2 separate regions of the Homo sapiens genome follow, and region 2 is linked to region 1. Evidence: fine-mapped QTL for protein levels in blood plasma. A gene starts in region 1. The other region holds a variant in brackets. All regions are shown on one strand. Distances are from middle to middle.

Region 1 (2,909 bases):
TCTCCCAGGCAAAAGCAATAACATGTATAAAGGTGCAAATGTATGAAATCTGTTTGCATATTCAGGGAACTAGATGTGGTGTAGTAAAATGAGGTGTAATATTCAAGGGGCAGAGTTGACAGATGCGAGGGGTGATGGGTCTTGAATGAGTTGTTCAGGAACTTGCTCTTGATATTATCAGAGATTGGGAGCCAATGAAAGCTTTTAAGCAAGCAAGAAACCCTGCAGATGTGTGGTAGCAAAGTGGAAAATGGACTAGATTCCGCCAGGTGCAGTGGCTCACGCCTGGAATCCTAGCACTTTGGGAGGCTGAGCTGGGCGGATCCCCTGAGGTCAGGAGTTCGAGACCAGCCTGGCCAACATGGTGAAACCTCGTCTCTACTAAAAATACAAAATTAGCTGGGCATAGTGGCAGTCACTTGTAATCCCAGTTACTAGGGAGGCTGAGGTGGGAGAATCGCTTGAACGAAGGAGGCAGAGGTTGCAGTGAGCCAAGATCATGCCACTGCACTCCAGCCTGGGCGACAGAGTGAGACTCTATCTTAAAAATAAAAAAAAAAGAAAAGAAAAGAAAAGAAAAATGGACTAGATTTATATCCCTTGCTCCACCCTGTCTTCCCCAAATTTAAATTCCTGCTTCCTAGAGGCAAATTCTTTCACCTTCTATGTCTCTGGTATTTATCTCCTTACTTTTAAGAATCATGTTTAAATTGTTTCTTGATTTTGCCATCATAGATATGATTATGAGGCTAATTAAACAGTAATCCTAACCGCTCTGAGAATGGACCTAAGAAATGAATGTGAGAAAGAAAGTAGAAGCAGCCCACTTGCTAGTGAGTGAAAGCCAGGGAAGGGTGGGGGGATGCGGGGAGAAATTGTCTCAAGTTGGAGAACCCAGGTGCAGGCTGGGAGCAGTACCATGAATTCCATTCAAGAAGCCAAACGTTTTAAGCACCATTTCCTGGAGTTTGCCAAGTTGAGTATTGACCCAGCCTCCTGTCTTGTTGGTTCCTCACTGCTGAAGAAGACCAAGTGTTGACAACTCAGTGAGGCAGTCTCAGCTGGAGTGGAAAAATGTAGCTAAGAAAACGTGCCAGACAAAGCTTTAAGCAGAGCTTCCCAACTGGATGCCGTGAAACGAATGACAGGGATGCAGATACAGCATGGGTCTTCCCAGCCCTCCAAGTGCAAGGGCTTCTGCAGGAAGCCTTCTGCAGGAGCAGCCTCTTCTGTTTACCCCCATTTTGACCCTTGTAATATCATCCTTTCCTACCTGTGCCAAGAAGTGAAAAGGTGTGTGAAGCGCCGCTTTAGAAGGCCCAGTACATTCACAAACATCAGCTTCTGGGCGAGGCTGCTTGGCCTCTTCTATTCAAAACTTTGTGTTGCCCTTTTAAGGTTTCTATTCCCCCCACCCCCACCCCGCCCACCAACACCCATTCCTACCTAGGTTCAACCCAAACCATCCTTAAGGTACACTGAGTATCACAGCACCAAAGGCTGGAGAGAGATAAGTTCCCCACCCTTGATGCGCTTCCTGTCCAGGTGGCCCGAGGCCCACTCCTTAAGAGGCAAGGCCCAGAGACACTGCTGTGTCTTGAGGAACATCCAGTACACCTGACATTTCCATTAGAACAGTGGGACCCGGATACCACTGGCAGGAAGTCCATCTTCACAGCTGCCAACCCATCTGTCAAACCCGCAGTCCCCTATGAGAGTACAGATGAATGGAGGAGGAAGATTTAAAAGTGAATTCGTGGGCGGCGACAAGGAAACAGCAGCCGTGGCCAAGCTGACCCCAGAGCCCTTCCCTTCCTGGCCCTCCCTCTGAATCATCGCGCTCCACTTGTGACGTCGCGGACGCCCGGCTCGGGCAGGCGTGGGGGGCCCGCGCGTCCCGGGAGCCCCGAGGCGGCAGCGCGCGTTTCCACGCCGCGGTCCCGCGGGAAAGCCGGGGGCGGCGGCCTGGCTGAGGCCAAGCTCGGATCCGGTGCCGAGCCAAGCGGGGCCGTGCGTCGCCGGGGCTTCGCCTTCGCTCGCGTGACCTCCGCCGTCCTCCCCAACCCTCGTCCTCTGGCCGCGCCTGCGGCCGCACGCCCAGCGCCCCTCGCCTAACCTCGCGCCCGGGCCGCGCCTCCTCCTCCTCCTGCTCCCCGCCGCTTCCGTTTCTCGAGGGAAAGGCTGCTGCCTCCTGCTCTGTCCTCATCCCCGGCTTAGGTAACACGTTTTCCTCCTTACGACACCCACCACAGGGTCCCCGCGCCGCTGCCCCTCCTCCTTGGATCTGGGGCCCGGGCTGGTGAGCGGCGCGCGCCGTCGCCTCTCCGCGGGTAGGTGAGTCGATGGCGCCGGGAGGGTTCCTCGCCTCTGCGCGCCGGCCTGCGAGGTCCCTGCCCCGGCAGCGAGGCCGCCCCCGGCCGGGCCCGGCCAGGCATGCCCGGCATCGCCGCTGCAGCCAGCGCGGAGGGGAGCTCGTGAGTCCCGCGGCGCCCTTGGCCCTGCCCGAGCGGCCCGATGGGGTTGGGGGGCGGGAAGAAAGGGTGGCAAACAACGATTTTAAAAATCCAGTCATTAGTATTTGTAGGACGAAGAAGCTGATCTGACAGTTGTCCAGAGCAGTGGCCCAGCTGCAACAGGTAGATGGCGCAGCTGTCAGTGACCCCTTGGTCTCAGCCTTGGCTTTGAGAGATGCATCTGAGTGTCCCTAGCTGCCAGCTACCTCCAGTGACCTACTTGATGAGTGTGAAATAAATATGATGGGACTATATTTAGAAAAATCTTTACTTCCTTGCTGTTAATTCTCTCTGCATTTTGAAAGGTGGTTTTGTGAGGTGTGCATAATTAGTTGGTGTGTCCAGAGTGGTAGCTGGAAAAAAATATTTAACCTGGGTTTGGCCCTATCATGTAGA
Region 2 (2,909 bases), 12 kb after region 1:
GATATTTTTCCAGAAATATCTCATTTGATCTTCACAACATCACTGCAAGGTAACTATTAATCTTTATATTAAAGGTAAAGAGAGAGTCTCAGAGAGGGTAAGAAAATACCTGATGCCACACAGCTAGTTAGTAGCAGAGTTATGTTTTGAACCCAGGCCTTTCTGATTCAAAAGCCTGTGTATTTTCCACTATATAGTTTATCCCATCTGAAATATGTCTAAATTATTCAGATAGGATTTTTAAACCTCTGATGTTCTGATAATGGCTGGAAATTTGAGATTTATCTTTGTGGAGAGGTTTGGGTTTCCAAGAAAAGTCTTAAGAACCTTTTTTCCTTCTGACATACTTCAATTCCTTTAGTAGCTCTCCAACTGGACTAGACAATCCTACAAAAGCAAAAGAGACCCTAATTCTATCTGACATTGTGACACAATTTTATGTTAAACATATAGATACGTACATTTGGTTTGAGATGGAAGGAATGAAACTTCTTTAAGCCCATTTTGCTGAAATGTGACTTGAAATAGATTGTTACAAAACAAGGCTTATGAGAGGTTCAGTGCTCACTGCAATATTAATTACTTGGCTGTTAAAGCGAATAGCTTTTAGTGGGAACGACTGCCTCACAGATGTTTCTTATTGACGACATAAATGGGGAGGAAAACACTATCCCATTTTCACTTTTGGCCAGAAAACAAAAGACAAAGGAATAGATTGTGTCAGCTAATAGATTGGGTCGCTAAGGTAACCACGGCCTGTCTTTCAGGAGAGGTTTTAGGGGCTAAATTATGTTACTTCAAAATTCACATGTTGAAGCCCCAACCCCCAGTACCTCAGAATGGGACTGTACTTGCAGATAGGACCTTTAAAGTTTATGTGAGGTCATACAGGCGGATCCTTATCCAGTCTGACTGGCGTCCTTGTAAGAAAAGGGAGACATGCCAGAGATTAACGCCCACGATGGAAAGGCCAGGTGAGGCCACAATGAGAGGGGCCGTCTGTGAGCCAAGGAGCAAAGCCTCAGGAGAAACCAGTCCTGCTGACACCTTGCTCTTGGACTTCCAGTCCCCAGAACTGTGAGAAAGTGCGATTTTATTGTTAAGCTACCCAGTCTTAACAAACTAACACCAGAAGAATTAGGTATTGGGCATGCCCCCTGCCATCAATGCCATGACAGTTAAGGGAGACATCAGTGGAACTTAATAGATGAGCTTTTACTACCCAGAAGGGTCCTTAACAGAGGCTGAAGATCAGCTGGAGAAAAGGTTTTTCTGAGAGTAAAAGGGAAGTCAAATAGTGACGTATAATGATCAAACCTAGTGACAGATATCAACTAGGGGTGTGTGTGTGTGTGTGTGTGCATTTTTTTTTTTTTTGCTATATAATGTACCTTATAATACTAATGTACTTATGATTATTATCCAACAATTACTGATTTTCCCTTATTTTAATAGTTAACAATTGATGAAAAGATTTCACTGGCTAGAGTACTGGTCAACAGTGGGGGCTTCTGCCAGCTTGCCTAGGTTTGAATCTT[G/T]TCCCACAACTTCCTAGCTCTGTGATTTTCAGTAAACAATCTCCTTGTGCCTCAGGTTCTTCATCTGTAAAATGGAGATAATAGTACCTACTTCCTAAGGTTATATAAGAATTAAATGAGTTAATACATGTAAGGTGCCTAGAAGGATGCCTGGCATATAGTAAGCACCTAGTAAATGTTAGCTGTTTCAATTTTAACCTATCTCTGCACAAGAATAACAGATAGCAAAACCATTGTACCTACATTGTTTCACCAAGATACCTGCCAGCAGGTGCCAGCTGCCACTAAAATTGCCAGCATAGAGGTAAAGAAAAATAAGCAACCTGGAGAACTGGAGCTATTAAATCTGTGTTTAGAGTTATACAGGTTGCTGACAAAAATACAGATTCCTAGGGCTTGTCTCCAGAGATTCTGATTCACTAAGCTGGGGTAGAGTCCAGCAATCTGTTTTTTTAGAAGGCCATCTTGGGTAATTCTGATACAGGTAACTCTCAGAACATCCATTGAGAAATACTAATCAAAAGGAATTTCTTCTATAGTCAAGGCTATTAAATTATGGTAAATGCCATAACTTACTAATCATAAGTCTATAATAATTTTTATTTAAAGTACAGTGTTGAAATAAAGTGGTCTTAGGTGAATGATGAGTATGTAAACTTACTTTTTAAAAAATCATCTACTTCATCACGCAGTTATCAAGCCTAGTACCCATTAGTGATGAAAGAATCTGTACAACAAACCCCATGACATGGGTTTAGCTATATAACAAACCTGCACATGTAACCCTGAACTTAGAATAAAAGTTGAAAAAATAAATAAATTAATTAAAAAATCATCTGAAAGATAATTTCCATGAGTTTTAATAAATGTATTGATAAAATGGAAGAATAAATTCTGCATTAGATGTAGCCTTCAGTTTCTCCATAGACAAATTATTTCAAGTTGAGCCATTCAAGGTTAGGATGAATTGTGCAATGCTTCCTTCAGGTTTGTGGCCTGCCTGTGTGAACTGAGTTGAGGATACATGGAGAGCCAGGGCCTTGGAGAAAGGGAAGTAGCTGAACAAATGCTGGGCTCATTAGCATGGCTGGTGAAAGTGGTTTCAATCTGAAACTGGGCAGTTCAACCTGGAACTTGACAAAATATGACAGTGTTGCCTAGGGCCAAAACGAAGAGTGAACTCTGGGATAACCTTGGAACTGAAAAACCTGATTATTGTGTTATGAGAAATTCCTAAAATCGGTAGACCTGTTCATTACAGGGCTGCAGTGAATAGCCAGTACTTCTTTCCCATTGGTCAAGTTGCTGTGCTCGCTAAGCAGCAACTGCTCAGGTCAGGTGAGAGTGGTCATTATTGAGGAAATAAAGGTT

The links. A credible set is the group of variants that fine-mapping cannot tell apart. PIP is the chance, under the fine-mapping model, that this variant and not a neighbour inherited with it causes the effect. Protein levels are from antibody-based Olink assays in UK Biobank. Linkage for the fine-mapping came from a reference panel and not from the study's own genotypes, which makes the PIPs less certain.
Region 2: its variant is the best candidate, but not a certain one, in a credible set for the plasma level of the INPP1 protein (UK Biobank, PIP 0.58).

Annotation. Positions count from the first base shown.
Region 1 is chr2:190,341,745-190,344,653 of GRCh38, forward strand. It overlaps INPP1 (inositol polyphosphate-1-phosphatase), which reads left to right and starts at 1,845. Exons shown (of 7, transcript NM_001128928.2): 1 at 1,845-2,217. It overlaps LOC124906109 (serine/arginine repetitive matrix protein 1), which reads right to left. Exons shown (of 1, transcript XM_047446773.1): 1 at 1-2,909. The coding sequence starts at 2,572. The coding sequence ends at 1,694. RefSeq lists silencers at 1,831-2,140, 2,211-2,540.
Region 2 is chr2:190,353,586-190,356,494 of GRCh38, forward strand. All of the region lies in intron 2 of INPP1 (inositol polyphosphate-1-phosphatase), which reads left to right. Among named protein-coding and RNA genes, the nearest start is that of INPP1, 11 kb to the left of the region's middle. The variant G/T (reference allele first, on the strand shown) is at 1,539.